Homo sapiens: one gene and its partners. The protein of the gene in region 5 purifies or fractionates together with the protein of the main gene of each other region. This does not show direct contact. Each region holds a gene or a part of one and is shown on either strand. Other genes may lie near its edges. The genes, in order: ASNS, TTC4, TWF2, PPP2CB, STK26, ARPC4-TTLL3 and TNIK.

Region 1 (4,179 bases), on a different chromosome or scaffold from region 5:
GGCAGAAAGGGGATTCTCAAGCTTAAGTAGTTTTATTTATTTATTTTTAACTTTTTTTTTTTTTTTTTTAAGAGACGGGGTCTTACTCTGTCAACCAGGCAGGAGTGCAGTGGTGCAATCACAGCTCACTGCAGCCTCAATCTCCTGGGTTCAGGTGATCCTCCCACCTCAGCCTCCTCAGCAGCTGGGGGTATGAGCATGAGCCCTCATACCCAGCTGTAACTAGTTTTAAAGAATAAAAATTATCTGACACATTAAAATTTCTTTCTTCCCCAAGAGATAGAAAGCAAACACTATCAGATTCCCTTTTGTAACCTCACAAGATACTCAAAAATATCACTGTCATACTGAAAGATGATAGAAAATAGTCAAACAATTCATACTTTTCTTAATATAGCATGAATATCCCTCCACTTCAGAGTGGTTACCTTGTGAAAATATATGTAACCCTGCGTAAGTTCATCTGATCCTTCTCCAGAGAAGATCACCACGCTATCTGTGTTCTTCCGAATATACTTGGAAATTAAATACATACCTTAAATGAGAGAGAGAAATTAACTTTAATGTCAACATAACCTTCCACCAAAAATGCCTTTGATTTGATTTTTGGAAATAATTGAAAGCTTTACTACTATACTGGACTTCATATTAATATAAAGTAGTTTCCACAATAATGACCTTGTATTTATAAGCCATTTATATGTACTTAATCCAAAAGTACTACTGTAAAATAAAATAACCCGGAACCATTTTGTCATTTTCTAAACAGGTTTTAAAATTCTAATGTTTTTAGACCAAGAATGTCCACCTCAAAACTTTGCTAAGCTGAACAATGACTCAAATACCTAAAAATCATGCCTTTCATAGTGGTATTATGACACAAAAATAAGAATAACCGTTTTGGTGGTTTAGTGTTAATTTTGATGGGTATTTTCCCCCTGCCACTCCCCATTTACCAGATTTCACATAAAGCTGGGGAGACTATATAAGTTATTAAACTTGCCTCCTTGGTCCTGCACCACATCTCTCTAAACCAGTGTTTCTTCTCAACCTTGTTTTTATTATCACCTCAGCTAGAGAGCCTTTTTAGACACTTATTTTCCTAACCTCACCCCAGCCCCATGAAATTCCAATACCAGAGCTATCCTGTCTATCTGCTTATTTACTGTGATGTTTTGGAGGGCCATAAACCATTGTAATACCTAAGATATTTTTGCCTTCCAAGGCAAGTCTCTCAAGGGAGGCAGTAGCATATAAAGGCTCAATAACACTGGATCAGTCTGATTTGGGGTATACTTCCAATCTCAGTAGATACATTATCTACAAGATAAAATTAGTATTGTTTGCAGAGCAATGATAGCTAGTGACTGGTAAGTTGTGTGATGGAATATATCTAAAATGACTATTTCTTATCAAAAATGCATTACCAAAAAGACCTATTTCCTCACTGTATATAGACTGTAGCCCAAGAAACTATAAGAGAAATGGGAGGTAGAGGGCAGAAAATATGTATCTGCTCCCTGGGGAAACACCAACAGTGACACCAACAATGTGGAGGTTGAACTACGTATTTACTATTCCCTTCACTCCAAAAGAGATTCAGAGAATTCTTAAGTGGTCTTAAATAATCAGTAACATAGGGATTTAATTTGCATTCATCCTTAAATAACATTTTAAAACTATGGCTTGAAATAATTTTTTTAAACCTTACATTTTTTTCAGTATTAAAAAAAGCTTTTTATTTAAGAATATCATAATACCTTACCTACTGAAGCACGAACTGTTGTAATGTCATAAGTTTCCAAGGAAAATATGACTTCATCCAGAGCCTGAATGCCTTCCTCAGAGTTAAAAAGGACTTCATAATGTTCACTTCCAATATGATCTGCCACCTTATTATATAAAGAAATACCCATTTACTTGTTAAAGAAAATAACTTCCCTTGAAAATCAAACATGATGGGAGTTCACAAAGCTTTATGAATTAACAATGGTGAAAACTAAACAAGGGAAAAAAAGAAAAATGACTTTACAGCCCACCACATACAAGCCCCATCCAGCACTGTTCCCTCGCCTGCTTCAACTCCACCACCAGGAAGTAAGTCTCCCCTCAGCTCCTCTGGTGCCAAGGCTTCAACCATTCTCCCAGTTGGCACCTCCCTCTCTACCTATTTTACCTAACCCACCTCATCTCTCTCTAGTCCAACATGGTCCCACGCTAAGCTTGGTCTTTTTTGGTCCTTCTTAAATGCCTAATTTTATATCCAGGATGTTATTCTTATATAGAATGGCCCTTCCCCTCATTCTGCTTTCCTTGGCTATTTTGGATTCTCTCGGCATTGATTACCTTGCACTGAGACTGCTCTCTAGCTTTTTCTCATCCATGCTACGAAAGTCCTCCATAGTGGGAACTAGGTCTCCCGCTCACTGAATACAGACAAGCTGCCCTCTGCCCACAGTATTCTAAATACAGTACTTTCAAAAATAATAATAACAGCTAACACTCATTAAGTACTTACTACATGCTAAGTTCTACCCTACTTACTTTACATGAATTATATCATTTCACCTTAAAATTTCCCCATAGCAGACACTATTATTTTGGTTACATAAATGAGTAGAGCCAGGATTTCAAACCACAAGTCAGGTTCCAAAGTCTGCAGTCTTAGCCATGATACTATGCCTTTACGTTTAAAAAAAAAAAAAAAAAAAAACGAACAAAAAACCCGTTTTTTTAATTTTTCAAGATGGGGTCTTGCTACGTTGCCCAGCCTGGACTTGAACTCCTGAGCTCAGACCTCCCCCCACAGCCTCCCAAGTATCTGGGACTATAGGTGTGTGCCACTGCACCTGACTTATGCCTTTACTTTCTTTTTTTTTTGAGACAAGGTCTCACTCTGTCACCCAGGCTCCCATAAGGCTAAGACTACAGGCATGCGTCACCAAGCCTGGCTAGTTTTTGTATTTTTTTGTAGAGATGGAGTTTCATTATGTTGCTCAGGCTGGTTTCAAACTCCTGACCTCAGGTAATCTACCTCCCTCAGCCTCGTAAAGTGCTGGGATTACAGGTGTAGGCCACCATGCCCAGACACCTTTACTTTCAAAAGAGCATACTTATCATCATAGGGTCTTTGTGAGAATTGCATGGGTCATAACAGATAAAAGTACACAGAGGACAGTGTACAACACAGTGCATATCCAACAGCCATTTCATTCTATTTTAATACAATCAATTTAAAACAATTGACCCAGTCAATACAGCAGCAGTAGAATCACCCATTATTGACTCCATTTTCATTCTAATAACAAGTCTACTCTAACTACACTACACAAGGGACAGAGACAGCACCTTACCTTTCTAGCAGCCAGTAAATCGGGGCTGTCTTCCATGCCAATTGCAAATGTCTGGAGAGGATACTGTACTTGGGCTTCTTTCAGCTGCTTCAACAGAGTGGCAGCAACCAAGCTGGAGTCCAAGCCCCCTACATGCAAAAGAGGAAGTGGAAGTGTCCTAGTTATGTGCCTTGCATAAGACAGGGACAGAAGATGTATATTCCTGATAAACACCAAGATCATAGTTTTACTATTTAAAATCCGCCAAGTTTTATAAACTGAAATCAACTTCAACAAGAGAAAAATATATAAACTGTGATAATAGTAGTATTTGAATTGGTTAAAAATCACTACACAGAATTCTAAAGAACATTCACTGACTCACTCTTAACACCAATAACATAGCTATAGTGTAACTCAAGTTGGAGTATGACTATGACTATTAAATACAGCTTATAAAAAATCATTTCCATCCTATAATGAAGGAAAGAGTAAATCATACAGTAAATATTTTATAGTAAAAACCAAAGGGATGGCTACAAATCATTTCAATTAAACACACATGAAATATAATTAGGTTTTTTTAATTGACTTCACCTGATAAAAGGCAGCCAATCCTTCTGTCTGTCATCAAACGTTTCTTTACAGCATTATTAAAAAGGATCCTGAGGTTGTTCTTCACAGTTTCTATCTCAAAACCTATAAACACAGCAGTAAATCAAACAGCTCCAGAAAATCTTGGGCTGGATTAGTTATTGAAATGAAATACACAATCATCAACATCTATCATGATGGTATTTACTCAATGGTGGAGTGTGCCAAATCTTAATGTGTTCCCTCCAAACAA
Region 2 (3,500 bases), on a different chromosome or scaffold from region 5:
ACCCTGGTGTACACCACAATCAGGATAAAGTTTACGCTCCTTAGCAGGGCATTCAGGCCTTCGTGTATGGCCCTAACTTAGCTTTCTAGCCTCATTTCCTACCACATCCAACCACTCTCTTTACACTAATACATTGGGCTCTTTTAGCTTAAGTGCAAAAGCATCTGCTTTTCTCTGCTTTGCTTTGCTCAAAGCTTAAGGAAAAGTAGTCCAAGAGTCAATTTGCAAATCTGCTGAGGGCTTTCCCTTATAGTCCAGGAACACCTCACAGCTTCTCTGAGACAACTGCCAAATCCAACTTGCTGCCACTGCTAATGACAAAGATGCCCTCCTATAGCAGGACTGCCCTGTGCAGTTTACAACAGCACTTCAACTCCTATCCTGTCATTGGCTCTCAAATACTTGAGAAATGTGTAGGCATGTATTACTCCCATTCCAGAGATGAGGCGGCAGTCCCAGAGAGGCAGCGTGTGCTTGGAGTCACACAGCCAGTAAATGATGATGGGTCTGACTTCAAGAGCCAATGCTTTCTTCATATGACAGTATCAGGAGCCGGGTCACTGGCATGCACTTGATATTCCAGCTACCTGGGAGGGTGAGGCAGGAGGACTGCTTGAACCCAGTTCAAGACCAGCCTGGAGAAGATACCCTGTCTCTATTATAAAAATAATTTAAAAAAAAATTTTAGGGGCTGGGTGTGGTGGCTCACATCTGTAATCTCAGCACTTTCGGAGGCTGAGGTGGGTGGATTGCTTGAGCCCAGGAGTTCAAGACCAGCCTGGCCAACATGGTAAAACCCCATCTCTATTTAAAAAAAAAAAAATTCAAAATAAGAAAAAGCAAACAAAAGAAAGAGCATCAGGAGACATAGGTATAGGTACGATTAGGAAAAGGAAGGCTGGCCGGGTGCAGTGGCTCGCCTGTAATCCCAGCACTTTGGAAGACCGAGGTGAGTGGATCACCTGAGGTCAGGAGTTTGAGACCAGCCTGGACAACATGGTGAAACCCCGTCTCTACTAAAAATACAAAAATTAGCCAGGCATGGTGGCAGGCGCCTGTAATCCCAGCTACTCAGGAAGCTGAGGCAGGAGAATCACTTCAACCTGGGGGGTGAGGTAGAGGTTGCAGTGAGCCAAGATCGCACCACTGCACTCCAGCCTGGGTGACAGAGCGAGATGTCGTCTCAAAAAAAAAAAAAAGGCCATCCTAGCAGCCTTCATGTACAAAAAGCCAGGCAGCTTTTCCCTTCAAAGACCAGTCCTATTTATCTCCCCTGGTCTGGAGTGTTATGGCTGTGGTGCAGTGGGCTATCATCACACTGGAGCCTGTTTGACCAATGGCTGAGTTTTATGGGCCCGGCCAGTCTCCATGGCTGCTGTCTCACACAGCTCTGTGCTCAGGGCAGAAGGGAGGGGAGTATGAGGCAATCAGTCAGCAGCGGAATGAGAACCTGGCTCTACTCCTCGGATGGTGCCTGAGTGATATGGTTTGGCTCTGTATCCCCAACCAAATCTCATCTTGTAGCTCCCATGATTCCCATGTGTTGTGGGAGGGACCCGGTGGGAGATGACTGAATCATGGGGGTATGTCTTGCCTGTGCTGTTCTCGTGATAGCGACTAAGTCTCACGAGATCTGATGCTTTGAAAAATGGGAGTTTTTGACCGGGAGTGGTGGCTCATGCCTGTAATCCCAGCACTTTGGGAGGCCAAGGCAGGTGGATTACCTGAGGTCAGGAGTTCAAGACCAGCCTGGCCAACATGGTGAAACCCCGTCTCTACTAAAAATACAAAAGTTAGCCGGGCGTGGTGGCAGGTGCCTATAATCCCAACTACTCAGGAGGCTGAGGCAGGAGAATTGCTTGAACCTGGGAGGTGGAGGTTGCAGTGAGCCGAGATCACACCATTGCACTCCAGCCTGGGCGACAAGAGCAAAACTCCATCTCAAAAAAAAAGGGAGTTTTCCTGCACAAGCTCTCTCTTTTTGCCTTCCGCCATCCACGTAAGAGGTGACTTGCTCCTCCTTGCCTTCTGCCATGATTGTGAGGCATCCCCAGCCACGTGGAACTGTGAGTTCTCCACTAAACCTCTTTTCTTTATAAACTGACCAGTCTCAGGTATGTCTTTATCAGCAGTGTGAAAATGGACTAATACACTGAGCATCTTCCCCAATCTACTCAGCGCCATGAGATGACTCACCTCTGGTGCTGTAGAACCTGTAGCAAGGTGCTCTTGGCAGGCACCCGGTATAGTTCTGCCCTGTCCTCATCCTCAAAGTAGACCTGCAAGATTAACAGAAGGGCAAGAGTCAGAGATAAAGGCTTCGGCAGCCTTAGTTGAGGCTAAGCCCAGGGAAAATTAAAAAGATGGCAACGGTTAGTAGTTGAATGCCTCCTTTATATGGTTGTGTAGCTGGGTGCTTTGCATTTAGTACCCCCCCGCCATGCCACTGTAAAAGAGGCTATTATCAGTTCCATCTTCCAAAGACAGAATCAAGGCTCAGAGAAGAACAACAACTTGCCAACATTACCCTGCTGGTAAACAGAAGAATCAAGACTCAAGGCCAGGCCTATGTAGCCCTCCTTTCCCTAACAAATCAGACTAAAGCCATCAGGTATGTGGAGGAGAAAGCTATGGTGGCTCAGAGAAGGAAAGAGCCTGAAGAAGGAGAGAAGGATGTCTGTGCAGGGTGTCAAAGCCCAAGCAGGGTGAGGAAGACGCCTGCACAGGAAGCTCCCGGGGGTGTCAGAGCAGGACCAGTGAAGAAGAGCATCCATGCTGGGGGCCAGCAGGCCTGAGCAGGGGAAGAAGTGCTCCCTTGTAAGATGGCTGTCCAAGGTGGGGTGTCAGAGGCCATGTGGGGTGAAAAGGGTATCCATGCATGGGGACAAGTAATATGGAGTTTACAGGCCCAACTAGGGTGAGGAGGGTGACCACTCATGGCAGGGGGTGGCCTGCTGTAGGGTGTCAGAGCCCAAGCAGGATGAGGAGGATGTCCATGTAGGGTCGTTGAGCAGTGTGGGATGTCAGAGTCTGTGCGGGGTGAGAAAGACGCCCACGCTGGGGCAGCAGCGTAACATGTGGAGTCAAGAGTCCAAGTAGGGTGAGGAAGGCTCCACATAGGAGAGGGGCCAGTGGTGATGACAGGAGGGGAACTGATCAAACAAATAACTATATTAAGAATAATAAAGTCAGGCCAGGCATGGTGGCTTATGCCTGTAATCTGAACACTTGGGAGGCTGAGGCAGGTGGATCACTTGAGTCCAGGAATTCAAGACCAGCCTGGGCAACATGGTGAAACCTCATCTCTACTAAAAATACAAAAATTAGTTGGGCACGGTGGCAAACGCCTGTGGTCCCAGCTACTTGGGAGACTGAGGTGGGAGGATTGTTTGAGCCCAGGAGGTTGATCTTGGCAGTGAGCCAAGATCTCCCTACCGCACTCCAGCCTGGGCAACACAGCTAGACTCTGTCTCAAAAAAACAAAAACAAAAAAAGAACAA
Region 3 (4,704 bases), on a different chromosome or scaffold from region 5:
GGTGGAGTGCTGGGGCTCCACCTCGCAGGCCGGCACTCCCCTCTCCCCTGTTGGGAAAGGACAGTTATATGCACAAGACTGCCCAATTCCCAGGGCCAGAGGCGGTCTCTCAGGGCCAAGCACAAGTCTTGATTTAAAAATATTTTATTCTTTAGAAAATACAGCATTCAACCATCCCAAACTGCAGTGACCCCTGCCCCAGCCCTGACTGACCCCACTTCTTGTGGCCAAAGGTTTCTGGGCTGTGCTGGGACCCTAGTCTCAGCTCCCCGGGAGGCCAGGTTCATGCCAGGCCCCTGACCCAGCCCCCTTAAGCCAGCCAGGCAGGGTCCCCGGACACCCTGGGCACACAGACGAGATGCAGGGACAGCAACAGGGAAGGGTCACAAAATGCCAGCCCGGTGGCCCTCGGACGCTGCAAGTGCGTTCAGCTGCCAGCCCTCCTGACCTCCCAGAAACACTTTCCTGGAGCCCAGGAAGGAGGATGGTGGCAGGGAGCGGAAGGTGGGCAGCCCCACAGTCCACACGTGGCCGGCCCTGCTCCAGCCTCCTAGCTGTCATCCCCATTTTCACCCGGGCCGCGGATGAGGCGCTTATGGCCCCGCTTGCCCCCTGGGCCCTTGGGCTTGGCGAAGGCCTGCTTGAAGGCGTGTTGCTTGGGGTGCACCTCGTCGTAGAGGAACTCTGCCGTCAGCTCTGCCCCATCGCCAATCTCAATCTGCATGGGGCAAGGCAGTGGTCACCCCAATGGGAGGGGCTCTGACACACACCACCCCTGGTAGCCCCCACTCCTGGGGCACCCCTTACTCTCACATCCTAGCCCTGGGGTCTCCTGAGGTCTCCCCTTGATTCCCCACCTGGAATGCCACTCCCAGGAAAGCAAGAGCTTAGGGCCTGCTGCCCTGCATGCCTTGGACTCTGCTCGCTGGGGTCACCTCCTCCCTGTCTCCAGGCCCAGGGAAAGGACATGACATGGTAGCCAGGACTTGGACTTTTCTGAGCCACCGATCAGCTGGGCAGCCTTGGGCCATGCGTGTTGCTCCTTGGGCCTCAGATGCCCTATGATCAACACGACAGCAACGATTCCTGCTCTGCCGTCATCTCAGGACCCCAGCGCCCCACATGGAGATTGGAGTGATAGGGCCTGGGGAGGTGAGGCCCTGGGGAGGGCGCCTACTTTCTTGGCGATCTCCAGATGGAAGTCCTGCTCCACGGAGTCGAGGAGGCGGCTCTTGCAGCTGGAGTAGAGCATTCGCTCCTTGATGCTGCACTTGTACCCCGGCATGGAGTAGATGAACACTGTTGGGGGGCAGGAGGTGAGCCTGGGAGGCCTGAGAAACCTGCTGACCTTCGCACCCAGAGCAGGCCTGCCCCACTGCAGACCAGCCCTGCTCCCACCCAGCCACAGGCTTGGGAGCCCTGCCATGGCCACTCACCTACAGACTCAAGGGGGTCGCCCTCATGGGTGTGCTTGTAGAGGAAGAAGTGGTAGCGGGCAGCATCTCGGGGCACCCGGGAGGGCAGCTGGGCCACATCCGTGGGCTCTGTGTGCACCAGCTCAATGGTTTCCCGCTCTAGGTCCAGCTTCTGCCCAGGGCCAAGGGAAGATGGGAGAGCACCAGGTCGGGGTGGGCCCAGGCCCCTCTCCCCAGGAAGCCCTCAAACAGGATTAGCTGGTGGGCAGGAGCCTGATGTGACCTCCCTCTCCCAAGACTCCCCTGCAATGGCCATCCCTCTATGGGGGTCCCTCTGAAGAGGCCAGTCCTGGGCCCAGCCCCAACTCTGCCCCTTTGAAGGTTGTGCTAGAGAAGGAACTCCCACCAAGGGTAGTCAACGGTAGTGACTCCTGGGACAGGATGGTGTGGAGGGTCACAACCTCAGGGAGATACTGCCACTGGGCCAGCCCATCCTCAGAGGCAAGGCCTCTGGCGGAAGCATCTTGGAAGGGAGGAGCCGTTTTGCTTGAAAGCGGCAGCCGGAACAGCCAGGGCAGAAGGACCCTGCCTAGGGAAACGGGGTGGTCAAGGAGACAACAGAGGGGATCTCTGACAGGAAGGGCCTCGGGGCTGAGGGGTCAGTGTGACCCCAGGGGTATGGGTGGAGGGCGGAATGGGGCAGTGTGCTCACAGGTGTACCTGTGTATGAGCAGGGCCTGGGGACAAGGGACCAGAACACATCTATGTGCACACAGTGTCTGCGCCCCAGGCGGAATAGGTAGGGATCAGGGAGGGGTGGGGTGGACCATGTGTTCCCACAAGCACATGGACGAGCTGAAGGGGACAGACTGCAGGCTGGTGGAGTGGGGACTCCATGTACATCTGCACATGTGCATGGGCAGGAGTAGGGGTGGTGGCAGCATGTGCCAGGGTAGGGAGCAGGCACCCACCATCTGGATGTAGTTGACCATTTTCTGCTTGAGCTGCTGGAGTGCCCGCTGGGCCTCAGGCTGCAGGGGGAAGGCGAGGCCCTGCAGGGTCTGGTGCTTGCTTTCCACACTGATCTCTGTCTTCACCTGTGGGTAGGGGAATGGTGAGGGAGGCCCTCACCGGCCCAAAGCAGGGTGTGGCTCCCAGGCAGCACAGGCTGCCACTGGGCCGATATGACCCTGAGGGCTCAAGGCTGGGGCCTCTGCTCCCCACCCACCTCGTTAATGCGGATCTGCTGGAGCTCTCTCTCAGCCGAGGTCAGCGGGGCAGGTGCCGCACAGGACGACAGGTGTTTCTGGTACCCAGCAAAAGAGAGGTCATCCTGCAGGGGTGGGGGTGAATGCAGAGCCATAAATGGGCACCTGGGGATTGGCTAGAGGAGGCCCACGGAGCACGCCAGCTTGCAGCCCTTGGACTCCCCCAGCGCCCCCATCTTCCTCCCGAAGCTGGCACTAGCTTGCTCTCTGACCCTGCACAGTGACCCCTCTCTGTGGGCCCAGGATTGTGTCCCGGTAAGTCCTGGCTTAGGATTACCTTCACAGTCCCGAAGAGCTCATCCTTGATGTGGCCACCTCCAAACTCCTTTTTCACTGTGGCCCGCGTGGCCGCGTACAGCATCTTCAGCCGCACCTGAAGGGCAAGGGCCAAACCGTAAGAGGCCTCTGGGCAGGGCTGCCTCTCCCGGAACAGACAGGTGCCTCTGGAGGAACTCGGTGGGCTCACTGCGCTGGCACACCTGGCAGAGGGCCAGCCCGGGGCCAGGACGCAGCAGGTGGCCCCCACCAGCAGGGGGAGCCCTCGTCCAGCCTGATCACAGCCTCCGGAGCCAGGCTGATGCCTGGAGAGCAAGAGGTACCCAGGCTGCGGGCACAGGGACTTGACCCTCTCTCAGACTCCCTAGGGCACGGCCTGACAGCTCTTCCCCCACCCTCCAGGGGCAGGCCTGTGTCCCCTCTTGGATCCCCCAGGGCAAGGCCTTGTTGCCTGGCTCAGCCCCAGCTCCCCTCCTCACTTCCCACTGGCCCAGGACTCACGGGGGAGTTATCAGGCGACCAGGCGAGGAAGAGCCATTCGAAGCCCTGAGCATTCTGTGAGTCGAGGCGGTAGAGCAGGTAGCAGGGCTGCTGGGCGTCCAGCAGTGGCAGCACGGCCCTGTCATAGTCCTGATCCCAGCGGCCTACTGGCTCCTGCGAGGCACCCAGCACGAGCTGCTCTGGGGGCAGAGGCCGGATGAGCAGCCGCTCCCAGCTCCCACTGCGCCTCCCGCTGCAGACCTCCAGCCTCGCCGTGGCTGCCCAGCTGGCTCAGAGCCGCCGGCTGCCCCTCACCTTCCCTGGAGCCCCCAGGTCCCAGAAGTGTGAGGCTGTGTGGCTGAATGAGTGAGCAAGGGAAGGCACAAAGCTGCCACCTGGGGGCTGCCCCCCTGCACATCCCCAGCGCGTGCACACACCCCCCCACACACACACACGTGCGCAGATCACCAACACAAACAGCCACACAAAGACACGCAGCCGTCAGCCCCTCACGGACACCACACCCCTGGGTGCTCCCTTGGACCCCATCCCCACCGCACAGCTGCTCAGCCCACAGTCCCCACGAAACTGCCTCCTGCTCGCCTCCTCCCCTGGGGCTCCAGCAGAAGAACCGCAGCAGACTCCCCTCAGGACAAATGTGCTGAGGGGCAGGTCACAGCCCCAGGCCACAGGGACCTACAGGGGTAAAAGCCTCTGGAAAGGAGGAGCAGGGGCTCCTACCAGACCCTGGATAAACAGACATCCTGCGGCTACCTGCCAGCTGCAGTCCCCTCGAAAATGTCACAGATCCTTGCCGGGCGCGGTGGCTCACGCCTATAATCCCAGCACTTTGGGAGGCAGAGGCAGGCGGATCGCCTGAGGTTGGGAGTTCGAGACCACCCTGACCAACATGGAGAAACCCCGTCTCTACTAAAAATACAAAATTAGCTGGGTGTAGTGGCCTGTAATCCCAGCTGCTCGGGAGGCTGAGGTGGGAGAATCGCTTGAACCCAGGAGGCGGAGGTTGTGGTGAGCAGGAGATGGCGCCATTGCACTCCAGCCTGGGCAACAAGAGCGAAACTCCGTCTCAAAAAAAGAAAGAAAATGTCGCAGATCCAAAGCAGCCACCATCTAAGTGCCTAGGCCCCACAGGCCTGCTAGCTCCTTGGCTGAAATGGGGCATCCAGCTGCACTTGTAGACTGGGACCTCATCTGGGCACCAGACACCAGCCTGGGTATACACAGGTCTAGCCTGGAGCAATAAC
Region 4 (4,704 bases), on a different chromosome or scaffold from region 5:
GGTTTAGTTTACTCTGCTTTTTCTAGGTCCTCAAGTATAAAGATAGGTTACTGATTTCAAATCTTCTTGTTTTTTTTTTTGTTTTTTTCTTTCTGAGACAGGGTCTTTGCTCTGTTGCCTAGGCTGTAGTGTAGTGCTGTGATCATAGCTCATTGCAGCCTTGATCAACTGGGCTCAAGTGATCCTCCATCTCAGCCTCCCATACAGCTGAGACTACAGGTGCTTGGCACCATACCTGGCTAATTTTTAAATTTTTTTGTAGAGACGGGGTCTCCCTATGTTGCCCAGGCTGGCCTCAAGTGATCCTCCTACTTTGGCTTCCCAAAGTGTTGGGATTACTTGTGTGAGCCACAGCATCCAGCCATGTTAATGATTTCTAATTTCATTTCCTTGTGTTTGGAGAATATCCTTTTAAGAATCTAATCTTCTTAAATTGCCTGAGGCATGTTTTACAGTCTAGCATATGACTATGTTTCATGTTTACTTGAGAGGAAAGTATTCTGCTGTTGTTGGGTGTTGTTTTACAGACATGAGGTATACAGTCAGTTTACAGTGTTGCTCAAGTCTTCTCCTGCCTTCATCTCCTGCCTAGTTGTTCTATCCAAGAGAAACAGTTTCTGTTGCTTAGTTTTTTCCTGTGTAGAGGTCACACTTCCTTGTTCTTTCCATGTCTTATAATCTGTGGTTGAAAAATTGGACATTATAGATAACATATTGCAGTAGCTCTGGAATTCATGTCCTTGGGGACTGATCTTGTCTTTTTGGTGGTTTATTATTTTTGTTTAGTGACTTAGCTGAACTAACTGTAAAGTCTACTTCCCCCATAGTGTGCAGCCCCTGTGGCCCTGCTCGGATGTTTTTACTTTTTTTTTTTTTTTTTGAGTTTCACTTTTGTTGCCCAGGCTGGACTGCAATGGCGTGATCGCCGCCGCCTCCCAGGTTCAAGCGATTCTCCTGCCTCAGCCTCCTGAGTAGCTGGGATTACAGGCATGCGCCACCACACCCAACTAATTTTGTATTTTTAATAGAGACTGGGTTTCTCCATGTTGGTCAGGCTGGTCTTGAACTCCCGACCTCAGGTGATCCGCCCACCTCGGCTTCCCAAAGTGCTGGGATTACAGGCATGAGCCACCGTGCCTGACCGTTTTTACTTCTTTTAATCTTTCACAGCCTGGCTACTGAGGGGCTGTCTCTGGGTAGGCATAAGCCACTTACTGATCAAAGATTGTACTTAAGCCCCCTTGGCCAGTTAGATCTTAAAGCTCACCCTAATGGCCACCGGAAATGTTATGTGACTTGCAGATTGCTATCAAAGCTGAAGGAGTTTATATTTTGGCTTCCCATTCAGCCAGGGACTAATAGTTGGATCTTCATACTGCACTCAGTCCAGAGAGGGTATAACCTTGGGCATGCACATATTCTGCCAGACTGTCAGGGATGAGTGTGATTTTATTTTAAAGCCTGACTACCTAGGAGGTGCTCCTGGATCAGAGTAACTGAATGTCGTTCAGTCAATGATGAGAGGTTGTGTTTAAGCCTCACATACTAGTGATGGTTACACCATTTGTTGATCAATCTACTTATCCATTTCCTGGGGCTGCCGTAACAAATTACCGAACTGTATAGCTTATACAACGGGGATTTATCCTCTCACAGTTCTGGAGGCTACAAGTCTGAAAGCAAGATGCTGGGAGGACCACGCTCTCTCTGAAGGCTCTAGGAAAAATCCTTCCTAGCCTCTCCCTAGCTTCTGATGGCTCTGGCAATCCTTAGCTGGTAGATGCATCACTTGAATCTCTGGCTTCACACAGCATTCTCCCCTGTGTGTGTTTCTTTTCCTCTTACTAAAATCCCATTCGAATTGGATTTAGGCCCACCCTAATCCAGTACAATCTCATCTTTAATAATTATATCTGTAAAGATCCTATTTCCAAATAACATCACATTTTGAGGTTCTGGGTGGACATGAATTTTTTTGGGGGGACATTATTCAACTCAGTACAATCTATGTGTGGCTTGAAAATATTATATGAATACCCCACATCCTACTCTTGACTGCTCCTGAGTGGGTATGGCTAGTGCATGTGCACAGCCTTCTTGTCCCCCAGGGCTGACTGTGATCCCAGAAGGGCTCTTCTTGGCTTTTTCCCTGGTGCTATTTGTTGAACAACATGTTGCTCTGCTCTTTTGTATGTTGCTCCTAGTATCATGGGAGCTATTACAGCCCTCTTAATTGGTCTCCACCATGACATCTACTGCTTTCCACAAAGCACTCAGATTTGGAATTCTCCATCACCTAAGTAAGATAAGTCCTCTGAGGCAGAGCTGAGGAACTTCTGTGACCTGCCTTTCCTCCTGAGCAGAACTTCTGTGCCAGTGCAGGCTCAGTGATACCACCTGGTTTATAAGCAGGTGCTGGGGTAACAGCATTGGGAAACCCAGCATTCTCATCTGCCATGCATGCCTGGAGCAGAGCTTCTGCCCCAGGAGCTGGGGCAGGGAAGGGGGCCTCAGCCTGCTTGACTGTGTCTACCAGGAGTAGAGCTTTTGTAACTCCAGACTAGGAGAGGTGAGATATGCTGGCATCTGATCTCTGGGAGTGAACCCACAGCCCCAGCCCTGGGAGCTGATGAAGAGGGGGAATCCCTTAGCCTCCTGACTATACCAACCCAGCGTAGAGCGCCTGTAGTCGTTTCTGTGAGAGGGATCTGGGAGGAGTTGGAGGGGGCAAGTCATAGCTCAAATGCCACAGACTACGGCTATTATTACTGAGATTTAGTAGGTTTTCTTGAATTAACTGTTTCTCCACCTGCTGTATGCCCTTAGGACAATTTCCAAAAGCTTTGAAAAATTATTTTTTAAAAATAATGTTCTCCAGCTAATGGTTATTTTTGCTGGAGAGGGGCTTTGCTATACTCCTCATCCAATTTCAGAAACAGAAATCTTCTATTTTTAACATTTAAAATTTTCCTTCTGAAAGTATATACAATTAAAATTTACAGTTACTCACAAGGAATATTTTAAAGTGTCATCTAATTCCATGATAGCAGCCTGGTTCCCACAACGATAACAGTAATTGGGTGCACTGAAAATGGTAACCACATTCCGATCATGACACCAATTGTATCCCTGCAGGATAAAAACAAATTCATTATTTCATTATAATATTATGATTTTGACACAGACACATTTAAAAAAAACTAAACTCAAAAACTACAGGTACTCTCTGTGGAAATGTAGTCGTCTATATTACTATATAAGGTCTCCATCTTTAATAGTTTGTGTACCTGTAAAGAATACTGTGCAATTCGTGGGCCTAGGAGTCTGTTAAATGCAGCTCGCTAATTGTTGTTTTGCCGTATCTATGCTTGAAATCTTGGCAAGGATGTGTACTGAATTTCTCCCACAATCATAATTAATTTCTCAATTTTCCCTCATGAATTATGCCAATTTTTTCTTTATATATTTTGAAGCTATTACTAGGTAAATACAAATTTAGAATACTTTCTTCCTAGAGAACTGGGCCAGTTTTCATCAATAATCTCTTTATTTCTAATAATACCTTTTATTAGAGCCTATCTCATTCATATTATTAGCTATAGTATTATATATAGTGTGTATACATACATGCTAATTAATGTATGTGTATATACATATGTATATATACGTGTATATATGTATATATGTGTGTGCATATATGTATACATGTGTATATACATGTGTATATACATACACGTATATATGTATGTATACATGTATGTGTGCGCATATATGTATACGTGTGTATATGTGTATATATACGTGTGCATATATGTATACACACATACATGTGTGTATATATGTATACATATATATACATACATTAGTGTATGTATGTGTGTATATACACACACACACACATCCTGTGTTGCCCAGGCTGGAGTGCAGTGGTGCGATCTAGACTCACTGCAACCTCCAACTCCTGGGTTCAAGCAATTCTCCTGCCTCAGCCCCGAGTAGTTGGGACTACAGGTGCGTGCCACCACACCAGGTTAATTTTTTGTATTTTAGTAGAGACAGGATCTCACCATGTTGCCCAGGCTGGTCTCGAACTCCTGAGCTCCAGCAATCCGCTTGCCTCAGCCTCCCAAAGTGCTGGGAATAGAGGCACGAGCCACCACGCCAGCTCATTAGCTATATTTTTGATATTTTGATTAATTACTTGATATACCAATATACCATTTTCCAACTCTTACCTCTAGTTTGTGGTGTCTTTTTCTTTTTCCTCGTTTTTTTGAGACAAGGTCTCACCCTTTTGCCCAGGCTGGAGTGCAGCGGTACGATCATAGCTCACTGCAGCCTCAACCTCCTGGCCTCAAGTGACCCTCTCACCTCAGCCTCCTGAGTAGCTGGGACAATAGACATATGCCACCATGCCCAGCTAACTTTTTGACTTTTTTTTTTTTTTTATATAGAGATGAGGTCTCACTATGTTGCCCAGGCTGGTCTGAAACTCCAAGACTCAAGAGATCCTCCCACCTCGGCCTCCCAAAGTGCTGGGATTATAGGCATGAGCCACTTTGTCCAGCCAATCATTTATGTTTTAGGTACATCCCAAATAACAGCTAAATTTTGATTATTTATCCAATCTAAGAGTCTCTTTCAGGCTAAAATTTTAGTCTCTTTCTTATAATCACTGATATAATTAAATTTATTTTTACTATG
Region 5 (4,704 bases):
TGGTTCTTACAATGGTGGATAGGTTAAAAATTGTTTCTTCTGCCACAAGTTTGTTTCTAACAAGTACTATACTCTATCATATGAATTCAGAGAGCTTCCCATTCACCTGACATTTAAAAGAAAAAGATCTTATAAAACATGCCTGCCTATTTTGCAGTTCTGCATGAATGAAAGCACCTGTTTTCCAAGTTAAAAACAATGTGTGCCTTTTTGTTTGTACTAATTCAAAACAGAAACTTGCCAACTGTCTGTCAGTAAAACGTGTTCATAGAAAGCTTGAAATGTGACTTTACAAAGTAGTATATACCATTAAGCATTAAAATTACAACTACTCAATTTCTAGATCTGAAAATAAGGAATCCTTATTTGTTCTGGAAATCAGTGGTGGTGAGGGCTGCACAACACGCCTGTAATCCTGGTATTTTGGGAGGCCGAGGTGGGAGGATCGCTTGAGTCCAGGAGTCTGAGAGCAGTCTAGGCAACATAGGGAGTCCTCATCTCTACAAAAAGTGCAAAAAAGTAGCCAGGTGTGGTGGCATATGCCTGTAGTCCCAGCTACTCGGGAGGCTGAGGTGGGAGGATCAATTGAACCTGGGAGGTGGAGGCTGCAGTGGGCCAAGACTGCGCCACTGTACTCCAGCTCGGGAGACAGAGTGAGACCCTGTCACAAAAAAAAAGCAAAACAAAAAAACAAAACAAAAAAAAAACCACCCAAAAAACAAACAAACAAAAAAAACACAAAATCAATGTGAATGTAGCCAATGCCAGAGAGCTGTACACTTAAAATGGCAAATTTAGTGTTAAGTATATTTTGCCTGATTAAAAAAAACATACAGCACATAAGACTTTATAAAACTGGAAGTGACAGTAGAGATCATCTTGCCAAGAATATGGCTAGAAAATTTACCACTTCTGAGTCATTTTCCTCCAGCTTGGAATGCTGTGTCCCTACCCCACTTGCACCTTCCAACCCCTATCAAAATCATTCTCAAGACTTAGTTCAAATGCTACCTCCCTAGTTTGAGGGTTATTGCACTTGATGTACTCACAGATAAGCAGGCTATTAATATGAAGCAAGTTATAAACACATATCTGGGGCTGAGCAGAGAGGATGAAACCAGAGACATCAGTTTAGAAGTTGTCAGACGAAAGTAGATGAGATTAACCACAATATGCAAAAGAAGAGGAATACACATAGTAGGCATTAATAAATAAGCGTCTGTTGAATTGAATCTAACATGGGGCTTCTTAGAGGTGTATTATATTAAGTTTAAAGCTATTCCTATTTTGAGAAAAGAACATTTTAAGAAGGAACAAACTTTCTAGCCTCCATTTTCTTCAAGTTTTATAAGAGAACTCCAAAACAAATGTTAACAATAAAAGAATATTCCAGAGGCATTGAGCATACATAAACTGGCTGTAAGCACATACAGTTTCAGTGAAAAATAAGGAGAAGGCCACAAAGCCGTACAGATGATTCTGAAATATTTTACTTCATTCAATTCTTTTTTTTTTCATAAATACTGGTGATGGTGGGTGGGAGGCAATATTTCCTTAACATACACAGAAATCTAAAGGCAATTTTCAGCAGCAAATAAAGGCATGATTCAAATTCTATTCAATGCCTGAGTGTCATTTTAAGATTTACACTGAACTAGAAAAATATTTAAAGATTATAAAAGATTATTCCAATATTATGAGATCAGAAGGGAAGGGTTTGCTTATTTTAGCACTCTTCATAAAGACTAACTTTGTCAAGAAAATCTGCCCAGTGAACTAAAATTAAAGGAAAACACTGTGGTCATACTGATGTGTTTGTCTGGTTTTTAACTCTTGTTTTCAAAAATGAAGTTATACAGTGAGCTTAGTCAAAATGAATACCTAGTACATTTTTTGCATGTCTCAAGGAAATCACTACAACTGCATACAGTTTCAAAGAACATATAATTTTCTCTCAAATGTAATAAACTTTTCCTCCAGCTTACAGTGAGGTCTTAGTTATGGATGACATCCTGTGTAAGAACAACCCATTTCCCAGTTTGCTCAATTAACTTGACTCACAAAATCCTCCATGTCACCTGAAATGGAACAATGGGCCACAATAAGTATGTAAGTTGACTGATAACACAGTTCCCTGATGGCACAAAGAGGATGTGGCCTTGACTTATGTTGACTACATGAAACAGAATCCTGTTATATTTGACGTGATTTTAGTTTAGAAAAAAATACAAACCCACACAGTCATACTATGTTGTAATATAAATGGAAAATAAATGAGTTGGTCAATTTAAGAAAGTGATTTAAATACATGGTATGAAAACGTTGTAAGATTATAGAATATTTCTTTCTCTGTGTGTATATACATATGTCTCAAGACATATGTATATACACACAGATTTATTTACTTTAAATAGATTCAGAACACAAATAATCAACATAAGCCAGCTGCACATTTCTACAATTTTATCATGAAGCAACATGTTCTTCAAAGTAGTGTTTTATATCATAGAGTTTAGTTAATGATGGGTGAAGGAGATAAAAATAATTTGATTTAATCCCTTAAGAAGCTATCTTGGACGATGGTTTTGTAGCACTGGCTGGTCTGAGTACACTTTACAATCAAAATTTGGGACAAACAAAAAACTAGTTTTTAATTATTTAAAGATTAAGTAAATACTGGGTGACTAGTACATGTATACTACTGTGCAACTTAAAAAACACTCTATATGAAATCTTAGGAAAAGAAGATAGAGCTGTCACTCATTTTCCATGGGAGTATTGAATATGAATAAATAAGCAACCAATAAAATTGTCAAACCATATCAGTACCAATTTTCAATATATTATGGAATAGCCATTTTAAATAGGGCGTATTTAATATTTTAGGTCAGCAACCAAAAATAGTGTTTTTGTCACAGGTGCCTAAAAGTAGCAAGGATTCAGTTTTGCCCTAGAGTGAGTCTGGAAATACCGGGATTCAGTCCAGAAAGAGTAAACCAGAATGAGCAAATGATACACACACAGACACACACACACACACACACACATACACACACACGCACACACACACATGTACCACCAAGGAATTGTATGGGAATTAGGAGGAGAACCTAAAACTACTGAGACTGCGTAATCACTCATGAGATCTCTAAAAAAGAATATGATGGGCTGAATTAGCTTTTTAGGAACAAATATGACAGCAAAATTATCACACAAAGGAGCAAATAATTATGTATGTAGTAAAATACAGTAATAGCTAACACTTAGATGTAAATGCTGAAATTGGATAGAAATTACTAGCATTATCACCTCCTTTTGGAGGCCTTTTATTCATGCCACTCCTGAAAAGGACAGAAGTGACTACTTACTAATTTGTGCATCATCTATACCTTGTACATACTTTAACCATAAAATTGGCATCATTTCAGTGCAAAACTGGACTGTGAGTGCCTTGACAGCAGTAGTGAGTTTGTTCACTTTTATATCTTCAGCACCTAATACAGTGTGTAATATATAGTGGCTGTTTGGCTGCTTAATGATTCATTCTACTATGCATTCATACCACATACATCCAATATTAGAATAAGTCGGGTTTTGTAAACAGGCAGTGAAATTTGTGATAAATTTCTATATCAGTATTAACCAATATAGATACAGATAGATGGAAAGCGATGACAAAGTCACCAAGACGGCAGAGGAGATACCAGTTTTAATCATCCCCTCCCTCCACATATACATAAAAAGCCCCCAAATATAGACAGCTATCCACAAACCCAAGTAACTCTGGAAGGATTCAAGGGCCTATTTAACAATCTGCAGCAACACAGTGGAGCAAAAAAGAAAGAATAACTCCACAGGAAGGATCACTGAGGAGATCAGCATACCTGAGAGGCCAGGAAATGTCTAGGAACAAAGATGAAAGGTGGAGGCTATTGGTATCACTACACAGTAGAAGCCATCATGGTCCCCAGTGGCCTGCTCTGCAGAGGACACTGGCATCTCTTGCTACTGAGGTAGTCAACAGCCATTTCTGCCAGGGAACCCCAAGAGGAATACATGACTACAAAACTCTCTCATCTCAAGAAGAAGACATTGTTGAGCCACATGGAGAAAGAAGCCACCACTCTGAAAACTGATGCAGCTCCAGACCTCTGAGTCATGGCCACTCCACTAGTGCCCACACTCCAGACCCAGATTCTGCGTCTTCACTGAGCTCAACCATACCTCAGACATTGGAGCCACTGCCACAGTGAGCTAGCTCACACCCCAGGGCCCCGGAGCCAAGGTTTCTCTGAGTGTGCCTATGCTCCAGACATCCACACAGTCACCACTGAAAGCTAGCCTGTGTTCTGGACTCCAGACCAGCTGAGTGGTTGCACTGGACCCACCCACAGCTCAGACACTTGAGCTAATCACTGCCATAGTGAGCTAGCTCACATCCCAGGCTCTGGAGACAAGGTCCCTCTGAGCGTGCCTATGCTCCAGACATCAGCTCAGATGTTACAAATAGCTAGGCCCTACGCCACCCTCAGAGCCACTGTAGCTCTGTGCAGCAGTAGGGGGTATTTGTACCTAGGACGTTGGTATTACTATTGGCTTGGGCCCCAGAGCATGTCCCTCCAGATATGCCTATGCTTGAAGCCTTAGTTCTGTGGCCACTCCATGGGCATCACTCATTAGACACTAGTGCCACCTCAAGTGGGC
Region 6 (4,704 bases), on a different chromosome or scaffold from region 5:
CAAGGAGTCTGTGGAGAAGATTCAAGTACAAATTCAGGCAACAACTGACCCAATGTTAACTGTGGCTTTAAGAGACTGATTCAGTGGGCCGGGCGCGGTGGCTCACGCCTGTAATCCCAACACTTTGGGAGGCCGAGGTGGGCGGATCACAAGGTCAGGAGATCAAGACCATCCTGGCTAACACAGTGAAACCCCGTCTCTACTAAAAATACAAAAAATTAGCCGGGAATGGTGGCGGGCACCTGTAGTCCCAGCTACTCGGGAGGCTGAGGCAGAAGAATGGCGTGAACCCAGGAGGCGGAGCTTGCAGTGAGCCCAGATTGCAGACTATGATTCACTTTGGGAGGCCGAGGCAGGCGGATCACCTGAGGTCAGGAGTTTGAGACCGCCTAGCCAACACAATGAAACTACTAAAAATACAAAATTAGCTGGGCATGGTAGCACATGCGTGCCTATAATCCCAGCTACTCGGGAGGCTGAGGCAGGAGAATCACTTGACCTGGGAGGTGGAAGGTTGCAGTCAGTGAGACTGCGCCACTGCACTCCAGCCTGGGCAACAAAAGCAAAACTCCATCTCAAAAAAAGAAAAAAAAAGGCCAGGCGCGGTGGCTCAAGCCTGTAATCCCAGCACTTTGGGAGGCCGAGGCAGGCAGATCACGAGGTCAGGAGATCGAGACCATCCTGGCTAACATGGTGAAACCCCGTCTCTACTAAAAATACAAAAAATTAGCCAGGTGTGGTGGTGGGCGCCTGTAGTCCCAGCTACTCAGGAGGCTGAGGCAGGAGAATGGCGTGAACCCGGGAGGCGGAGCTTGCAGTGAGCCAAGATTGTGCCACTGCACTCCAGCCTGGGCGACAGAGCGAGACTCCGTCTCAAAGAAAAAAAAAAAGAGAGAGAGACTATGATTCATTTGGCAGATCTTAGAAAGGATTTCTAATTCACTGTGCTCTTTCTGATGCTAGACTATAGGCTCCGGGAATAAGCAATGTGTCTTATCTTTTTTGCCTTTTTTTTTTTTTTTTTTTTTTTTGAGACGGAGTCTTGCTCTGTCGCCCAGGCTGCAGTACAGTGGCACGATCTTGGCTCACTACAACCTCCGCCTCCCAGGTTCAACCAGTTCTCTGCCTCAGCCTCCTGAGTAGCTAGGATTACAGGCGCCCACCACCATGCCCAGCTAATTTTTGTATTTTTAATAGAGATGGGGTTTCACCATGTTGGCCAGGCTGGTCTTGAACTCCTGACCTCATGATCCACCCACCTCGGCCTCCCAAAGTGTTGGGATTAGAGGCATGAGCCACCACGCCCGGCTCTTTTTTGCCTTTTCTATGGCTGAGGTAGACCCAACTTTTCCTAAGCTTCTAATCCTCTTTGCTCCCACTCCAAGATGAAGGCCAACTCTCAATTCAGGCAGTGGGTGCCAAACAGCTGGAGTAGCTGGTTCTAGAAACAATCCCAGGCCATTCTGTAACAGGGTCCTGGGTATCGCAAACTCATGGGTCACAGGGTCTCACCTCCACAGGCTTCCTTCGAAGGATAAAGAAGTTCTCTGCTCGCATCATCATGAAGCGCATGAACTTGTGGCACAAAATCTTCTCGATCTCATCAGCCTGGGGAGTGCAAGAGAGAAATGTTTCTCTAAAGCTGACACCCAAGGCCAAAAACACCTTGTAGCCTGGTCTTCTGACTCCAGTTTTTTCAAGGCTCCCAGGAGACAGTGAGGTTTGGTACTCGGAAGGATCACTGAAGTGGGGGACCTGGCTGTCAACTGAAACAAGGGTCTACCTTGGGGCATCTCTTAATGACGACCCATTCCAGAGAGGTAATTCTGACAGGCTTCTATTGCTTCTTTCAGAGTCTACAGCTGTACTCCAAGCTGCCCTTTCCATTCTCATTTCACTAGTGTCACATTTCCCAGGGTGTTTTGCAGCATCACCTGGGCTATCAGAGATAACCTTAGGTGGTCTCTGCTTTAATAACACTGAACATCCAACAATCCCTGAAGTTTCTCCCTTCTGAATGCTCAACATTTCTTTTTTTTTTTTTTTTTTTTTTTTTCTGAGATGGAATCTCGCTCTGTCACCCAGGCTGGAGTGCAGTGGTACGATTTTGACTCACTGTAAGCTCTGCCTCCCGGGTTCAAGCGATTCTCCTGCCTCAGCCTCCCAAGTAGCTGGGATTACAGGCGCGTGCCACCACGCCTGGCTAATTTCTGTATTTTTAGTAGAGACAGGGTTTTACCATGTTGGCCAGGCTGGTCTTGAACTCCTGACATCAAGTGATCCACCCGCCTTGGTCTCCCAAAGTGCTGGGATTACAGGCATGAGCCACTGTGCCTGGCCCTGAACTCTCAACATTTCTAAAGGAAGATTATTGCTGCTGGTTGCTAGCATGCCCTTAACACCTCTCAACACTTGTTAACCTCCCATTTTAGCAAGGAAAGCAGGCCCCAGGTTTATAAGTTTCTGTAGAAAACAGTGTGTAGTCTGCATTTAATAACAGTGCTTCGTTTTCATCCTGTTGAAAGTTTAGAGTTGCCCTCTACTGGCCAGGCATGGTGGCTCATGACTGTAATCCCAGTACTTTGGGAGGTTGAGGCGGGCCCATCACCTGCGGTCAGGAGATGGAGACCATCCTGGCAAACATGGTGAAACTCTGTCTCTACTAAAAATACAAAAATTAACTGGGCGTGGTGGCGGATGCCTGTAATCCCAGCTACTTGGGAGACTGAGACAGAAGAACTGCTTGAACCCGGGAGGCAGAGGTTGCAGTGAGCTGAGATCATGCTGCTGCACTCCAGCCTGGGCGACAAGAGTGAGAATCCGTGTCAAAAAAAAAGGAAGCAGAGGCTAGGTTTCCTGCACTCTGAATCTGGAATCTGGCACACTGATCTCTCAGATGGGGACCCCGGACTGAAAGAGGCTGAAAGGACTGAAAGAGGCCTTACGTTGGGCCTCCTCCATGGTGAACTTACCTGTTTCACAGCAATGCTGACCCGGACAGAGTTGATGGAGCCCTCAATCAGAACCTTTTCCTTCTCATTCCTGCTGATGGTCACAGGTTGTAACAGGAGCTCTTTGCTACTCCTGAAAACATAATGTGACAGAGTACTTGTACTACAGAGGGATAGAATAGTCAGAGTGACCCCACGCAGGTCCTGGAATCACTATGAGACCATAGAGTCCAAGGAATAGAAGACTCACAAGCAGGAGTGCTCCAAGATGGGGGCCAGTGAGTGTGTTCTTCAGCAGAAAGAGCACAGGCTCTGAAGTCAGGGCGAAAAGGTTTTGAAATCCAGCCTCCTCTGTTACTTTCCTTGGGCAAGTTACCCTGTTGGAATCTCAATTTTCTCATCTGTAAAATGACTCTGATTCCTAATTCACTGGCGAGGACTGAGAGAGATCAAAAAGGGTCAAATGTCTAATAGCGTGCCTGGCACATAGTAGGAGCTTTACAAAAGATAGCTATTTTAGTAACTACAAGTTGAACATCCCCAATCTGCAAATCTGAAATCCAAAATCTGAAACTGGCTGGGCACAGTGGCTCATGCCTGTAATCCCAGCACTTTGAGAGGCTGAGGCTGGTGGATCACCTGAGGTCAGGAGTTCGAGACCAGCCTGGCCAACATGGTGATATCCCATTTGTACTAAAAATATAAAAATTAGCTGGGCATGGTGGCGCACTCCTATAATCCCAGATACTCAGGAGGCTGAAGCACGAGAATTGCTCGAACTCAGGAGGTGGCAGTTGCAGTGAGCCAAGATCATACCACTGTACTCCAGCCTGGGTGACAGAATCAAACTCCATCTCAAAAAAAAAAAAAAACCTGAAAGTTTCCGAGTGCTGACAAGATGCTCAAAGGAGATCCTCATTGGAGCATTTTGGATTTGGAATTAGGGATGCTCAACTGGTTAAGTATCTGCAAATATTCCACAATCTGAAATACTTTTGGTCCCAAGCATTTTGGATAAGAGATACTCAACCTGTACAGGCAAACCAATATACCATTTAGGAATACAGAGAGAACACCTGTCTTAGAGGTAAGGAAAGGCTAAAATTGAACACAGTTTGGCTTCCTTTAATTATCAATCCAGAAATGATTCATTTGCCTCTGAGACCCCTATGAGTTCAGGTTACAAAGTAATGCCTCTGAATACCTAGAGATCTCTAATAGTAATTAATTGTGGTGTGGTGTCTCTAAACTGCTAACCATTTTCAAAGGCCCACTGGAAATCGTGTACGTTACACAGTATAACAGGGCATATCCTAACATCTTTATCAGTTATTTTTAAAATTAAAAATTAAATCGTATCATTTAATGTTGTAACCCAGATTATCTCAGTTATGTATGTACCAGAATGAATTTTATTTTATTTTATTTTATTTTATTTTATTTTTGAGACGAAGTCTTGCTCTGCTGCCAGGCTGGAGTGCGGTGGCACGATCTTGGCTCACTGCAACCTCCGCCTCCCAGGTTCAAGCAATTCTCCTGCCTCAGCCTCCCGAGTAGCTGGGACTACAGGTGCATACCACCATGCCCAGCTTATTTTTGTATTTTTAGTAGAGACAAGGTTTCACCATGTTGGCCAGGATGCTCTCGATCTCTTGACCTCATAATCTGTCTGCCTCGGCCTCCCAAAGTGCTGGGATTACAGGCGTGAGCCACTGTGCCCGGCCTATTTACTTATTTTTTGAGACAGGGTCTC
Region 7 (4,704 bases), on a different chromosome or scaffold from region 5:
GATAAAACTTGAAAAGAACAACAAATAATTTAATGAACTTTCCCTTTTAGTTTAAAACATCAATCTGCATTTTCTCGTGAAAAAGATCTGCAGGTTTTAGCTGACCTCAAACTCAGGAGAGGCATGATGAGATTCTATCAAAGTCTTGGTCTGTGTTACTATAAACATCTCATACAGATTAAGGAAGGACATGTCCCCTGTGTACCCACTGAAAATACTAGGCTTGGATTGGGGAACCATAATTTTAAAAGGCTGAAAGCATTTGAGATGTTAGCGGGGAAGAGTGTGAAGCCTAGGAACCATTTCATGATAGAGGCTCTGTCCTCTGGAGAAGAGACAGAAGAGAACAAGATAGCCACATTTAATACTGAAAGGATTAATATATGGACAAAAAAGCAGACATTTGTGTTGATCAGAAGATAGAAGTACAAGACGTAAGAGAAGTTAGAGAGTTACATGTTCATGAATAAAGTACACTGCACAATGAGCCTCTCAATGTGTGTGTGTGTTGAGGGGTGGATGATACATTTCCCTAGCCATAAATTTTTAGGATTACAACTACCCAGACAAAGCCACTTATGTGCCTGTGCTTCTGTAATAGGGATTACTGCATGGGTGTTGGGCTGCACTAGATTTAGAGACCTGAGAAGTCCCTTAAAGTGAGTATGTCTGTGACTCTCCAGCTATTAACACTTCTCTTGAATGGGTTTATCATTTCCCTAAAAAAGAGCAAAAACTTGAGGGTATGGGGCATAAGATAGTTACATTTTGATTCAAGAAGGAGGAAGGGCCTTTCTTCCATTGGAGTATGGAAATGGAAATTCCACTGTATATTGAAGGTGGGTAGGCTAGAGACCACTGCATAGGGGTGGGGGTGAATCTTGGGGAAGAAGAGAAGTGATTTATAGGGAGAGCCAAGAAAGAAGTGGTTTTTCCAGGCAGGGAATAAAGGCAAATTATGCTAGCTTCACATCTGTGCCTAAGGCTCCTATTGACAAGGACTCTCTGCATTAGGTAGTAAATAACTAGATGTATGAATGCTGCTAACTTTATAAAAGAAAACTGTAATTTCATTACCAGAAGTACAATGATTTAATTATTATGTCAGAGCTTCTACATTCATTAGTTTATATTTACCTACTTGCCCATTAGTGTATATTTACAAGTCACAGTTTCTTAAATTTTATAGGGACTCTCGATGCAGAAGATTAAAGTTCATGAAAAGTCAGTCTTAGGGTGCTTCTTAAATTTACAGGTGTAAACCTTCTGGTGGGGACTGAAAATGGCCTGATGCTTTTGGACCGAAGTGGGCAAGGCAAAGTCTATAATCTGATCAACCGGAGGCGATTTCAGCAGATGGATGTGCTAGAGGGACTGAATGTCCTTGTGACAATTTCAGGTATGTTACTAAGATGATGAGTCCCCCAGGTCCATACAGCGGGAAAGGGATCCACCTCATTTCTGCAGAAACAGTTAGTTCTGCCCTTCCCAGCTAACAAACAACACAATAAAGTATAGCAGTATAGCCAGAGTGAGATTGCCCACATTTTGTAACACTGGGAATTCTGACCTCCAAAAAGAAGTCTCTCACCTCTGCATTAAATCTGAATTAGGCAGAGACATACCACAAAGGCTATATATTTATAGCTCTTTACCTCTGTCAGGACTCAGCAAGGATCTTCGGATGTTTTTAAGGTTTCTGCACTCCAGTTATTACCACATACAGACAGAATATCAAAATGCAGGCTTCCTAGAGGGACATTTAGTAAGCAGAAATTTCTTGGTCTCTTCCCTCAAAAATTCTCTTGCTTATAGCCCACTGATGTTTTGGCAGGTGCAGCTGGCACACTGGGTGATCAAGTCTACAAAAAGATTTGAGTGTGGGAATCATTACTGCTATGCTCTGTAGCTTTCTGATTCCCAAAAAGAGCCTTATATAGGAAAAAAAAAAAAAGATGGAGACTAAAGTGAAGGCCTTGTAACAAGTTAAAAATGCAACCTAAAAGAGGGTAGTTTTGTTGAAAGTTTTTTTTCTTTTTGGTATTTGAAGGAGTTTAACGAGTAACACCCGTCACTTCCCCTCTCATTCCATCTAGTATGGAACCAACTTGCTACTGCACTTTATAATCACCTAGGGAGATGTGAAAATCTAGGCTGCACCCCCAGACCAGAGTCAGAATCTCTGGGGGTGGGGTTTAGGCATCAGGAGCGTTCATAGTTTCTGATGTGTTTCCATTGTACAGCCAAGTTTGAGAACATGGATTTATGCTCAGCCATTGTTTCACGAAGAGACAACACAGGGATGCTGGTTTGAACTTTCCTCAAAGTTCAGCTGTACTTCCATTTTGACAAAATGCTTTTGCTTGTCACTAAACTTCCTCTTTCTTTTACCTTTCCACTGAATGCTCAGTTTCATCTCTTTTTATTCTCCCCAAATAAGGTTAACCAGGTAAATTCCTTTTGTATTGCCATTTGAGTTTAATCCCATGTAGTCTTTTGTTCTGGTTAATTGCTGTCCTGATTGCTATACTACCAAATCAAAATGAAAACTGCATATCTGCCAAAAGTGGGAATGCAACCAGAAAATTCACATTCAGACTTCATTATGTTGTTAGTGGCACATCTTCATTCTTAACAGTGTAAGAGTTTCCTTTTCTCATGAGGCACAGATAGGGAAAGGAGAAAATGAAAATAGGAGCAAAAGATTCTTGAACTAACCTTGGATTCATATTGGCATAGAAAGGAGGAAACACTGGCTCTCGTGTCCATCCTAGCTACTGTGATCAATGTGGATTCTAGGCCTTTGGTTACAAAATTGAATACTGACCACACAATGATTCCCTTAGTTTAGGTGATGAATGTGCTCTCCTGTCAAATGCATGTGTAATGCTTTACTAAGTTCTCTTCTGCTGGTATATATTCATCTATAAAATATAAAACATTTTTTTTGGGAGAGGCCGAGGCGGGCGGATCATTTGAGGTCAGGAATTCCAGACCAGCCTGGCCAACATGGTGAAACCCCATCTCTACTAAAAATATAAAAATTAGCTGAGCATGCTGGGAGCGGCACCTGTAATCCTAGCTACTTGGGAGGCTGAGGCAGGAGAATCGCTTGAACCCAGGAAGCAGAGGTTGCAGTGAGCCGAGATCATGCCACTGGACTCCGGCCTTGGCGACAAAAGTGAAACTCATGTCTCAAAAAAAAATAAATAAATAAATAAATAAAACATTTTTAAAGCCTAAGATAAAGAAAAATAAGTATCCAAAAAATAAAACCCATAGAGCTAAATTTATCATTAGTTAGGAAGAGTCATCCCAATGGACATTTTATCTGGTGCAAATCATCAAATGGAGTATATCAAGTTTTGCTACTTGTGTACTCTTCAATATTGTCTAAATATTTTATCATCCTATGAATTCTTTATTCCAAGATCACTTTACCAAACGGAAATTTAAGTTTTCAAGTTTGCATCCTTTTTTTCCTATTTTTGTTCAGTATTCCTTTCAGTGACTTCAGCACCATAAACCTGCCCAGTATAATTTTCTGAACCCATATTATCCTCTTGTTTGTTATTAGGTTATACGGTGAAGGAAAGGCAGGTGCCAAAATGCCCAGTTGCCAACACTTCTTCATGTGATTGATCTAGAATGTTCTGGAACTCTGATCACTCTGTTGAAGAGTTAGCTCTTACTAAGTTCAGCAGACACTGCTTTGCATTGGGAAGAGAGAGTAAGAGCACATGCTCAAATAAGAAACCACCTGAAGATAAAAGACATTGTAATTCTGTGATGTGTCTAAAACACGTAGAGCTATTTTAACCATAAGTTCTGGCAGAAACACCATTTTAATGACAAAGTGCTGGGGACACTGGTTATTATGCCTTCATACACACACACACACACGTAAATAAAATAAATTAGAAATAAATGGAGGTGGGGAAGGAAAAAGTGAGAGCTGTCACAGCAATTTGAAATTAAACCTCTATTATTTCAACAGGAAAGAAGAATAAGCTACGAGTTTACTATCTTTCATGGTTAAGAAACAGAATACTACATAATGACCCAGAAGTAGAAAAGAAACAAGGCTGGATCACTGTTGGGGACTTGGAAGGCTGTATACATTATAAAGTTGGTAAGTCTCAAGACATGGAATTATAAGTTTGGTCTGTTTACTCAATCAGACTTACTTAGTTAGGTTTCACCTAGTTTTTTCTATCAGATTGATGATGCATGTGTGACCAGCTTCAGATGTTGCTGGAACCTTCAGCATTATTTATATTTTTTAAAAGCCAGATTGATGAAATTGAAAGAGTGCATTCAGAATAAAGTCCTAGGCTCCAGTTTGAACATTTATATCTACTTTCTTCCAAAGACTCATTAAAATGACAAGAAAAGAATAAAAATGCCATAAGCCTATGAGGACAGTGGGACCAAGAGAAGAGAAGAAATGTCGGTAAAATCGAAAGAGTAGCTGAGTGACTGGAAAAAGACCTAGAATACCAGGAAATTCTGAATTCTGAATCTGCAGTGAGGAAAATGATCAAAATCAATCCAACAGAACCTGGAAAGGCCCAGGAACTAAGGCCCCAGGGGAATCTCAGGTGGAAGTGGAGGTGTAAGGTGGGACTGAAAATAGAATTGTTAGAAAATTCATGAGCAGCAAGTCTTCCAGAACCCAGTCTCCACCTCTGAGTAATTAGGCCA

The links.
Region 1: the proteins of STK26 (region 5) and ASNS fractionate together in Homo sapiens (co-fractionation; one large-scale study listed by BioGRID). This does not show direct contact.
Region 2: the proteins of STK26 (region 5) and TTC4 fractionate together in Homo sapiens (co-fractionation; one large-scale study listed by BioGRID). This does not show direct contact.
Region 3: the proteins of STK26 (region 5) and TWF2 fractionate together in Homo sapiens (co-fractionation; one large-scale study listed by BioGRID). This does not show direct contact.
Region 4: the proteins of STK26 (region 5) and PPP2CB purify together in Homo sapiens (affinity purification with mass spectrometry; 2 studies listed by BioGRID and IntAct, with this or other methods). This does not show direct contact.
Region 6: the proteins of STK26 (region 5) and ARPC4-TTLL3 purify together in Homo sapiens (affinity purification with mass spectrometry, with the first as the bait; one large-scale study listed by BioGRID). This does not show direct contact.
Region 7: the proteins of STK26 (region 5) and TNIK purify together in Homo sapiens (co-immunoprecipitation; one study listed by IntAct). This does not show direct contact.

The regions. Positions count from the first base shown.
Region 1 is NC_000007.14:97,854,925-97,859,103, forward strand, and holds part of ASNS (asparagine synthetase [glutamine-hydrolyzing]), read right to left. Parts: intron 4,032-4,179; coding exon 3,930-4,031; intron 3,482-3,929; coding exon 3,354-3,481; intron 1,893-3,353; coding exon 1,766-1,892; intron 536-1,765; coding exon 429-535; intron 1-428.
Region 2 is NC_000001.11:54,736,361-54,739,860, reverse strand, and holds part of TTC4 (tetratricopeptide repeat protein 4), read right to left. Parts: intron 2,280-3,500; coding exon 2,197-2,279; intron 1-2,196.
Region 3 is NC_000003.12:52,228,484-52,233,187, forward strand, and holds the end of TWF2 (twinfilin-2), read right to left. Parts: intron 3,640-4,704; coding exon 3,461-3,639; intron 3,057-3,460; coding exon 2,961-3,056; intron 2,749-2,960; coding exon 2,644-2,748; intron 2,513-2,643; coding exon 2,387-2,512; intron 1,588-2,386; coding exon 1,437-1,587; intron 1,300-1,436; coding exon 1,178-1,299; intron 719-1,177; coding exon 551-718; 3' UTR 129-550; downstream 1-128. UniProt on the Homo sapiens protein: Actin-binding protein involved in motile and morphological processes. Inhibits actin polymerization, likely by sequestering G-actin. By capping the barbed ends of filaments, it also regulates motility.
Region 4 is NC_000008.11:30,788,187-30,792,890, forward strand, and holds part of PPP2CB (serine/threonine-protein phosphatase 2A catalytic subunit beta isoform), read right to left. Parts: intron 3,130-4,704; coding exon 3,011-3,129; intron 1-3,010.
Region 5 is NC_000023.11:132,056,598-132,061,301, reverse strand, and holds part of STK26 (serine/threonine-protein kinase 26), read right to left. Parts: intron 1-4,704. UniProt on the Homo sapiens protein: Serine/threonine-protein kinase that acts as a mediator of cell growth. Modulates apoptosis. In association with STK24 negatively regulates Golgi reorientation in polarized cell migration upon RHO activation.
Region 6 is NC_000003.12:9,798,565-9,803,268, reverse strand, and holds part of ARPC4-TTLL3 (ARPC4-TTLL3 fusion protein), read right to left. Parts: intron 3,085-4,704; coding exon 2,973-3,084; intron 1,609-2,972; coding exon 1,513-1,608; intron 1-1,512. Other genes in the region: ARPC4 (actin-related protein 2/3 complex subunit 4), read right to left, coding at 1,513-1,608, 2,973-3,084.
Region 7 is NC_000003.12:171,078,946-171,083,649, reverse strand, and holds part of TNIK (TRAF2 and NCK-interacting protein kinase), read left to right. Parts: intron 1-1,255; coding exon 1,256-1,399; intron 1,400-3,997; coding exon 3,998-4,132; intron 4,133-4,704. UniProt on the Homo sapiens protein: Serine/threonine kinase that acts as an essential activator of the Wnt signaling pathway. Recruited to promoters of Wnt target genes and required to activate their expression. May act by phosphorylating TCF4/TCF7L2.